2 separate regions of the Homo sapiens genome follow, and region 2 is linked to region 1. Evidence: fine-mapped expression QTL. Tissue or cell type: esophagus muscle. Region 1 holds a variant in brackets; the other region holds the start of a gene. All regions are shown on one strand. Distances are between the middles of the regions.

Region 1 (5,394 bases):
GTTTCCCATTCTCTCAACCTTAGGATAGGTGGACTCTGGGGTCTTTGCTCCCAGAATAGGGCATTAGGAGACATAGTATGTCTCCTACTAAAATTCAAGCTTAGATGTCATTTGCTTAATTTTTGATTTCTTGTACCAGTCAACTAGTAAGAAAGAAAGAAGTTACCATACCAGCAAGGATAATTGACTCTGATCATTATGAGGAAGTGGGATGCTGTAACAAAATGAGAGGAAGAAGAAATACAAAAGTAACACACAGTTTGAATCTATTTTTATTAAGTCTGAAATGGATAAAACTAATCTATGGCAGTTGAAGTCCACATGCTGGCTACCCTTGTGGAGTAGGGAAGTAACTGAGGGGTAAGAGTGTTGTTCTGGCATCCTGGTAAATGTTCTGTTTCTCAATCTAAGTCACAAACGTGCATTCACATTGTGAAAATCATTCCTGCTGCACACCCATGGAGAGTTTTCAATATGTGTGGTAAATAACACAAAATTTATTTAAAAATATAGGCAGTGCAAAGTCCAGTTCACAACCATGACTCCATCTTCTGTGTTCTGTGCACCTCACAGTTAACTAGATCTTGTATGTAAGAATTCTCCTTAAAAGATCTCTGATCTTCTTTAATCAAATACAAACAAATACCAATATACATTCTATTTTTATTCCTTTCCTATATAAAAGGCAGAGTGCCATACACTTTATTCTACACCGTTCTTTTTCCACTTATTACTACATCTTGATGAATTGTAAATATGCACATAGCTTCTGAATTTTTAAAATAGCTGCACAGAGTTCCATTGGATGATTTTTCATAGTATAAAGTCAGCTATTACAGACCTTCTTTTCTAACCCTTTGCTATTATTACAAAACATTCTTCAGTGAATTACCTTGTAGAACCATTTAATGTGCAGATATTTGTAGAATATTTTTAGAATTAAGATTCTGAGCGCAGAGTTAAGATTGTAGGGTCAAATACATTTGTAGTTCACAGACCCTTTAAAGCATATGCAATAGTTCCCTTTCCTTTGATAGGTACCAAAGTACAAGCATATTATAGCAGTTTTGGATGTGCAAATCATTAAAATGTTTCATACATGAAAATTCATTAAAATCAGAAGAATCCGGTATCTATTCACATTCCATTTCCCACTGTCACTCATATATTTTGGAATTCAATATTGCAAAATAATATATTAAAAATCAATATTAAATTTAATATTGAATGATGCATATATAAACTTTCTAAGAAAGTATATTATTTAGATTTTAAATCACAGATTATGAAATTTGGTGCTATTTGGTGCTATACTAAATATCCTTGGAAATGTAATCCTGGTTTTGACTTTCTGAATTAACAGAATCATGATACATTTGTCCCCAGCAAAGTATCAAACACCCTGGCTGCCCACTTACCAGAGTGCCAGTGCTGAGCAGAGTAACAAGCCCAATAAAACACTTAAACCAATTGTTCTCTACAATCTTGCAGCAGGTTTTCCTGATGTTCTGCCAGATTTTTCCTTTCTTGGATGCTCCACTGATTTGACCAAGTGAAGATCCGCGTCTGCAACCTGTCAAGATTGAATTGGTAAGAACAACAATCTAGAAAACTCATGAAAAAGTAAACAACTGAAACTTTCTACTATGTGCCACAGCAATTATTTATTTACAAATTCTAATCCAGGTTGTCTCTGATTTATAAACATTTAATTTTTACCCATGGTGTAGTGACCACTGTAATCCCTGAGCAGGAAAAGGAAAACTGGACTTAGGAGTTCGGTAGTAATGAAAGAAAGGCATTGTGAAAGGCAGAAATGACCTACAACATGTTGTCACTCTGCAAAACAGTCTGAGAATAGGTATTCACTAATAGCACAAAAGAAAATACACACAAATATCTCATTTCTGAATGTTACATTTTGATATAATGCCTGAAAATTTACTCTTTGAAGATTCACATGGTATAACATGCATTCCTGTTTAAAAATATAAATACTTATGAGATGTTAAGAGGCATAAAATTAGTTAAATCAAATTAATTGCTTTGATTCCAGTTCTTAGGTGGCATGAAAATGGGAATTTTTATTGAGACTATTACGGAAGTAACATGGACTGTGGAGTACTTTGTGGGTAGAGTACATGTGTACGGGGCTGCACTCTGCGCTCTGGCCAAAAGGGTTAGCAAAATGGAAACCTGAGGCTGGAGAAGAGGTTGATATACAGGTGACAAAACAAAGAAATGGAGGTAGGTGGAGTTTAAAGCCAAAACATTTTATTTTGGAATTTTGTCTTGTGTTAAATTATACTATGAGTAGTATTGTGGCAGTGGAATATTATTAATAATGGTGATTCCAAAACACATTTTTCATGCTGTGAGTAATATTGGGTAAAGATACATAATGTTCATATTTGATTTTATACTAGTAGCTATACCACTGTGTGCTTTAGAACAGAGCACAATTTAGGAGTAAAACAGAAAATCAGTATAGTTAAAGCAGCACTGAGATGTTTGTGTATACACATACACATGCACACATATACCTATATATGTTGAAGTCAAATGAAGTGTTCTTAGATCTCATGAAATAGGGCCAATATTTAAGTTACTCATATAAAAATGGCCTATAACTGTCAGAGGAAAACAAGTTGTAATGGTGACACTTGTACATTTAACATGAATATTAAGAAATGTATAAAGATTCAGTCAATTGACTGACATACTGGATATGGAACATATACATTTTGACAACTTATAATTCAAATTAGTTTCCTAGCAAGATTAACAAAATTTTCTTACCATTTTTCAGATGCTTTGATCTTTCACCTCCATAGAACATTTCTTCTTCTTCAGAGATAGCAATATCAACAGTACTGCATTCAGATGAGCTAGATTGCTTTATTTTCTAAAAGGTGAAGTCCCACCAAAAAAGTTGTGATTAAAGTTTCATTTACCCATGGTGGCCAAAGTTTATTTCATTTTCAGAAGTAAGAAAAATTTTGTACAGAAATAATATTATTAGGTTTAAAAGACTTAAGGCCAATTTCATGACTGAGATTAAAATGCGTACATATTGGTAAGAGTTGAAGTTTAAAAAAATATTGTATGATACTTACTTTAAGCTAAAATAACATTTAGATTAAAATTCATGTTTAGTTTATAAC[A/G]CTTTGCTTCTTAAAGATGTATAGGCTGTCTCCAATTCACAAAAGGATTGGGGTTCCAAAGTTTTCTTGGAGTAAGTCACAAGTTTCCCATATATGCTATTTCAATTAGATGAGTAGAATCAGAACAAATCATCCCTTGATGCTAAAGATGGGTAGATAATAGTGCACCTAGGTTTCATTGTAAAATTCAGTCCAGATGGTCTTATGTATGTCATCACAGGATGGGATTTATCATGAAGTAAAATGAGGGAAAGGCACAAGAAATAGGGACAAGAACAGGCCTGGGAAAGGGGCACAGCCTTATGAAAAGCACCCAGATGCAGAATTGACCTTCTTTCTAACTCTGCTTTTGACTGAAGTTCAAGGCTGGGTAGAATAAGGTGGTCATTGCTTTACATAGGTAATAGTGCTAATGATACTCTTTGCCTTTATTTAAAATTATTTTCTCACAATACTTTATTTTACCTTATTTTAAAATAAGGATACCGTAAATCATTCTTTAAAATCACCAAGATCTAAGGTTAATAGCATATAAGTAATATTTTCTAATTAAAACAAAAATTAAGGCAAGCGCATTTTAACATTTGGAATGAAACCAATCTTATTTCATAAAAATTAAGAAAAAAATCTAGGTAGACGGCCAAAAAACCAGAGAAATTGTCAATATTTTGTCCTACCTCTTAGACTTATACACAGTAAGTGTCAAGGAAATATAATTAGAAAGCTTTTTTTGCTTTAGTTCTTACGTGGTCAGTTGTCAGTAAATCATTATAGTGCTCAAATAAAAAAAGTAAAGTATCCAGCAGAATATTATTCTTACACAGATATTTTTATTTCCATTACTTTTATATATTCTTTATTTATTTCTAATGAAATAAAATCTGTAGCAATATATTTATTTGAGACTAGGCATTAAGTAATTTAAACATAATATTTGACAGTAATTAAAATTATACATCATAAATTTATATTTTTAAAGAGTTGTAAAAAGCCTTGTACATATCCTATTTGATGTGATTTTTCCAAAATACCGGTGAGTAGGTATTTTTCTAATTTTACAAATAAATCAATTAAGACTCAAATTATAAATCATTTATTTTGATAAAAGATTATTTAATGGCATAAAGTGACCATGATATACTTCTGCATTACAAAAAATACAAGTTACAAAACACGATGTAAATTTTGATGTTATTTTTATAATATGTAAATATATATGCATATTTTTAATAAAAATAGGCTGGAAGTACAAATAGCAAAGAAACAAGACAGTGTATCTCTGAATTATCAGATCATTTATAATATTTTTGTGTTTTATTTTTGGCTGTGGGTATATCAATATCCTAAGTAGTCATGGGCTACATAATCTAGAAAGCATCTAACTAAATATGTAACTAAATATATAAATAAATGAATACATCTTTTGTGAGTAGTTAATCAACCAGCAAGACCAAATAACTATGCAGCATAAATAAAAACTGCAATTTCAATATTTACAGTTATTTTAAGTTACAGCTTTCCTATGTATTTTCATACTCCAGAATTTCTAAGGAGATTAGCATGAAGTTTTCAGGGACACTCCAACATGCTGTGCTGTGGTAAATAGCAATTTCACCCAGAAATGGATAGTAATCCAAATCTTTAACGAAGATTGAGAAGTGTGCTGAGTAAGAATTTATGCCTGTTTTATAGCAATGGTATTAATTTAAAAGGTAAATGAATCTTAGACTATTGGGCATGTGGATTAAAAATGTCTCTCTAACTAAAATAAAGATGGCTTTAGTAGGTGATGGAAGGACCTTGGATAATTGAAACTGAATTCCTCTTAGAAGACAATTTGTGAAGTTATTGTAGAGAGCATCTGCCAAAACAGAAGAGGTCTGGGAGACAAGATGGTGCCACAGATGATGGGGACCTGTAAAGACACATTCCCCGACCCTCCAGTGCCCCTGAGTGATCTGAAATGATTCCCTAGTGGGGTCCAAGGTAAAAAGCCCTTGTGCAGATGTGATCTCTGTAGGTGTAGCTTTCTATGAAGTTACACCTCCTTCTAAAACACAAGCTGCTTGCAAATGGAGACAATAAGACTGTTTCCAGTAGGGTGTATATTTTAGAAGCTAAGTGAACAGCAGTATCTACCCTTCTTTGAATGCGACTCTGATTTTTTTTTAAAGCCAGTGCGTTATAAAGCTACCAACTGTTCAAAATTCAAACTGGGAGGTTTTAAAAA
Region 2 (5,394 bases), 65 kb after region 1:
AGGGTGAGCATGATTTAGTTTTTGTCTCACTCTGAGTTGGGCAAAAAATGTCCAACATGGAGCCCCAGGGCCAGAGAAAGAGAGTAGATATGGGCAAGAGCCTGTAATCAAGTGCTTAGACCATGTCGCCTCTGGGAGAACTCAGAGAGTGAGCAGCTGGTGGACTGGAAGCCTCACCTTAGCATTTAAAATAGGAAAGACAGACTACTCTACTCAGCACAATATATTCACCTAGGGTCTATGGCCCCCAAATCAGCATCACCTCCTGTTCTAGTTTAACACCAAATGCCCTATCATAATATCAGACCTTTCTAATCATAATTTCCATGAGTGGGGCCCCAGCTTCTGCATTTCTATCAAGCTCTTTGATGTCTAGGCAGTCAGTGTGGCACCTGACCCACACCATCATCAGAGCCGTCCATTGAGCTGGTTATCCTTGTCCAGCACCAGGCTGAGTCAATCCAATTATAAATACTGCAGAGACAACAGGGATATCTGTTTGCTAGGAATTTCAGGATGGAATATAAGAAGATGGCGCCTCATTTGTAATAAACAATAATTGAACAAATGAATGTAAAATAATAATCTTAGCTGGGTCAAGAGATATGCACCAACTCAAAAATAACCTCTGAAGCCCTCAGATGAAATCTTATCTTTAACTTCAAAGGCTCCTTCTTTCAATGTTGCTGCAATGAGACCTCACTTGTCTGGTTGGTTAGTCCTCACTAACAGAAGAGAAGGAACCAACGCAGGAAAAGAAAAGTGACATCTGTTTGTACAAGATTTTCTCATGTGATAATGGGTGACTGTGCATTGCTGATATCTGGAGTGGGGGTGGGGGTGGGCAGAGGTTATAGATGTTCTTCTCACACTGACAAATACTGAAAATGGTTAGTGGAAATAATGGGATCAGACTCCCAGAAATCAAGAATGTCCCTTTTACCCAATGCCTCCACCATAAGCTTTCAGGAGGGAGTCTAAGGCAGTAGGTAGATGGTGAGTCAATCTCTGAATACCCCAGTTGTGACACGTATCTCAACCCAATGAGATCTAGGGCTGGAGTGCAGATTTCCCAATCCCTGAGTAAGGGATTGGGGAAAATACTGTTATTTTTATTTCTAGTATGCTTTGGACAGGTATTTATCCTACTTTGGGAAAATCAGTGAGAGTGTATATCCGCTACCAAACCATCTACCACACGAGGCTACGGAGACAGAATGCCCAGTTTTGAAGTGCTTGGCTCTGCCTCCAGTACTCCAGTAGAGACTGATATGCAGCAGCAGGTCCAACGGTCGTGTGCCATCTGGGATCTGATGACCCCTTTTCCTGAGCCCATGTACAAATTGAGTTCTTTCTTCTATTACTTTAAACATATCCATGGGAAAGAAGGGACTCACAGTACCTATCCCCCAGGTGCAAGATTTTAATGAATCTTTGCAGTCAAGATTAGAGTATTTATGCCTAAATTTTGATTTCTCCTATGTTAAGTAACGGGCCAAATACATTCAGCAATATCCAATATACGTGATGGCTTCATCCCCAGGAAACAGGACTACAGACCTAAAATCAATTTTAAAACTAAAAACAGAAAGAGGGTAAAGCATATTTGGAGAATATTACAAGGTTTAAATATGCAAAGCTAGCCAAAGCACACACTTTTCACTTTTTTGAGGATAAAGGCTTTCAGATTAGAATATGCTTTAAACTGTACAGGTGGCAAGAAAAGGATTTGAATTTCACTTCCTCTAGTGCATTCTAGAGATGCATGTCAAAGCCCTCTGTATGCTTATATTGAATCAGACTTAGAAGGAAAATCAGAATAGTGAAGTAGATAAAAACACAGAATAATCCCTTATGTAATCAACAGTTACACATATGGTACTTTCATAAACCCTTTATATCATCTCTGTCAATTAGTTTTTGTCAGGACTTTTTGGAGTGTCATTTATAAATAAAGAAAATAAAGCTTACTCAAGTTAAATAATTGGCTTAATTTGTACAAAAATTGAAATCAAGTTTTGTAGTTCTAAATCCCAAAGACTTGTTCATTGGACTTCCCGCTCAATTACTGATTTGCCAGGTAGCCTCAGCAAATTACTCCTTATAGGTCTTACTTGTAAAAACAGCAGCTGGATTATAGAATCTTTAATTAAGGCTAGTCATAGCAGGTATGGTGCCCAGGATTCTGTTTATTACAGGGCCCACTTTCCTTCTACTTTGCCATAAATTGCTCTCCTGAATGAACAGCAGTGGGGTAAAGTATCCACAAGAAGCACCACCCAAACTCTTTCCCATTTCAAGATATTTTTCAGTCCAATATCCAAACTGGAACCCATCATTTTCGTTAATGAAAGGGGCCCATCGGTGTGTCATTCCACATGCACTCATCATTTGTCTTGTTTTGACCAATGTTCTAAGTTTTGAAGCTAACACAACCAGTCACACTATCACTTCTAAAAGAAAACCTCCAGAAGAGATGCATTTTATAGAGCAAAACAATGCAAAAACAACAACAACAATCTCTGTTGATCTAGTCAATACCAAAATGCCCAACTGACTAAACTGAGCACACCACTGCCAATCACATCAATGCCTCTACTTTTATACTATCTATTCCTTTGGGAAAATCAATCTTGAAATCTCTGTTATTTAGAATAAGAGATAGGATTCTTAGAAGAAGTGTACAACAATCTGCATAACCTTTCCTCCATTTTATACTATCATTGTACCATGTAATGTAAGTCATTGTCATATAGGGTTTCTAGAATTTTACACTAACAGAGAATGTTGGTTTCAGAAGCTTACCTGATGGAATTAGAAAACTGACGGCACATGCCATGCAAACACCCACAGACCACGGCTGCTCTTGAAGTATACTCTTGAAGTAACTCTCCTAATGCACGTCCACAATTTCAAATCTCTGTCCTCCTGCTGGGGACCCTAAGGGTGTGTATGGGATGGGGCAGGTGGGAGTGGATGGGAAAGGCTGGCAGCGGATAGCGGCTATCACCATTCTGGGACTGGACACAGCAGCAAGAAAAAGGCACTTACTTGCTACGAAGCGACAGGTCTCCACCAGTGCCTGAGGGACCCTTCAGGAGCAGGGCTCCTTGGAGCCCTTTCCTCCTCCTGGGCTTCTCTTTCTCCACGGATCTCTCGGGTTTTCTGAGCTCTAGTTGTACAGAAGCTGCTGTTAGGCTGGCGTCTGTCCTCACCAGCTGTGGCTCTGCAGTAAATGGGCCCCACTAAATGGCCAGTTAGACACCGACTCACTGGGGCGACTCTCCAGCCACTGACCCAGAGACCCCTCCTACCCAGATGTCCAGTGGAGCCGCGCCCGCTGCTTGGAAGCTGTTTTTGTCTCCTTTCCACTCCTCCCTCCCCTCTCCCAGCCACTCCACTCTCTCCCCCGCCCTAATCTCCAGGCCAGTGAGCGACTTCAGCATCCAGATCGGGCGTGGGCGGGTGATATTGACAGAGACCTGCTGCAGATGCAGTAACAGCAGCAGCTGTGGCGTCTCCTCCAGCAGCTGCCGGGAAGGGAGGGAGGAAGAGGAGCGGGGGGCTGATGAGGAGGGGTAGAGGGGAGAGGGCCTGCAGAGCGTGAAGGAATGAAGGGGCTAGGGAACATCCAAGGAGGAGAGGAAAAGGAGCAGCGCGGTGCAGCTGAGGGGGAAGGGAGAGTGAAAATGAGGGAGAGGAGAGGAAGACAGAAAACTCTGGTTCTTTAACCTCCAGTTGTATTCTCTCTCCCCTTGCCTAGGTGCCCCAGCAGAACTTAGAGGGGCAATTGTCAGCCTGCAGCATTCAAATCTGGACATTGCTGTAATTAAGAGTTTGTAATCCTGTTGTTGTGTGAGTATGTGTGTAGCTGTTTTTAGGAGAGTCAAGAGTCAGCTGGAGCTGGCTTTTACTCTGGATCAGTTTCCCACTCTAGTGATTTGAAACACGAGGGACAGAGGAAAAATTATGTTTATTTTAGAAAACTGCGGCAATACAGTGTAGTTTGGGAGTGAAGGCCAGAGGGGTTGCACCTTCTTCCCAAAGGCCACACCATAGAACCTTCATTTTGTAACCCTATTTTATGCACACATCACATCACTTACTTCAAAAATATATCAGCATATGTCTCTGAATGGTAAGAACTTAAGATTTTAACTCAATACCCTGATCACATCTATAATTAGCAATAATTATTTTGTAGCATCAAACATTCACTTGATTTCTTTATAATGGACAATTGACTGACTGCAGGCTTCTCTTCTCCACACTCTGGTGATGATGCAAATGAATTTTCTAGAGCATAAAACCTTCCCTTAGAGCAGTCTGACACATATATCCCTTTTCACCCAGTAAAATTCTACACACCTTTCTGTACATTCAAACACAATATAAATTTAATGAACTTAATATCAAATATTTCAAAGTTTCCATGTGATATTTAAAATAAATAAAAAGAAGTACTGCTTTTTATAATGTGTAATGAACAGGCAGTTGATCCCAAGATATTGTACAAACCAATCACATAAATGAGAGGCAAATAGATGGGAAACTAATGGTGTTGGTTTTATATTCTGAGTTAGCTAGCCATTTTCTTGTTTTGGAACAAATATTTGTTTTGGGACAAATATTTGGCACTACGGTTATATAACGGTTATGTAATATTACCAGGTTGGATCTGAAAAGTTTTGGCAATTATCGTGCCCCTAATAATGAGCTGAGGATCCTTCCTCCCCCACTGAGTTTCTCAGCAGGAGGAACTACATAGTGGAGGGTCTGTTTTCAACATTTCTGCCTTAAGAACTTTATAAGCATATTTCTAAACTCTACTTTCTAAGTATGTATTCAGTAGGTGGGAGCTCTAGACCCCACATACTCTTCTGTGTCAGGAGAGAAGCTGGCTGTATCACACTACACTTGAACTCGATACGCCACTGTGGGCATTAGCTTCCTTTCAGTCTGTTTAAATGGGAGCTGTTTATTGTGACCTCAGAGATGTCAGTGTCAGAAGTGTGGATGGACTCGATGTTTTAATTCTCAAAAAAGTCTCTACATCCAGAGTTGACAAAACCCTGTATAAAAAGACAAGCAAACAACTCTCCCAAAACACACTCAAACAAACCCAAAACTCTTTCTTTGGAGATATGTTCTCCAGTTTCATCATCTTTTTCTACCTGGCTACATGGTAGCCATTATGTTCTGCCTTTATGGACACTCTTATTTATTAAGAATTTATTCTGTGGTTGACAGTCTTTCCCTCCATTCAAACTCTTGCTTTCCTTCTTAAAAACTTTCTCATCCATTTGAATACCAACAACTATTTGGATGAAGCATCCAACAGCCTAACTTCTGATTTCATCCTTAATGGATTATCTTCTTCTCCAAATCATCTCT

Alleles and levels. Alleles are on the strand shown, and positions count from the first base shown. SD is a standard deviation of normalised expression in the study named.
As copies of G replace A in region 1, the expression in esophagus muscle of the gene that starts at base 3,333 in region 2 goes down (small effect, 0.15 SD a copy in GTEx).

The links. PIP is the estimated chance that this variant, and not a neighbour inherited with it, causes the effect. A credible set is the group of variants that fine-mapping cannot tell apart.
Region 2: it holds the start of SCN7A, and the variant in region 1 is the best candidate, but not a certain one, in a credible set for the expression of SCN7A in esophagus muscle (GTEx, PIP 0.63).

What each region holds. Positions count from the first base shown.
Region 1 is chr2:166,426,370-166,431,763 of GRCh38, forward strand. SCN7A (sodium voltage-gated channel alpha subunit 7) reads right to left here. Exons shown (of 26, transcript NM_002976.4): 17 at 2,800-2,905; 18 at 1,419-1,573. Among named protein-coding and RNA genes, the nearest start is that of SCN9A, 53 kb to the left of the region's middle. The variant A/G (reference allele first, on the strand shown) is at 3,165.
Region 2 is chr2:166,490,917-166,496,310 of GRCh38, forward strand. It overlaps SCN7A (sodium voltage-gated channel alpha subunit 7), which reads right to left and starts at 3,333. Exons shown (of 26, transcript NM_002976.4): 1 at 3,052-3,333.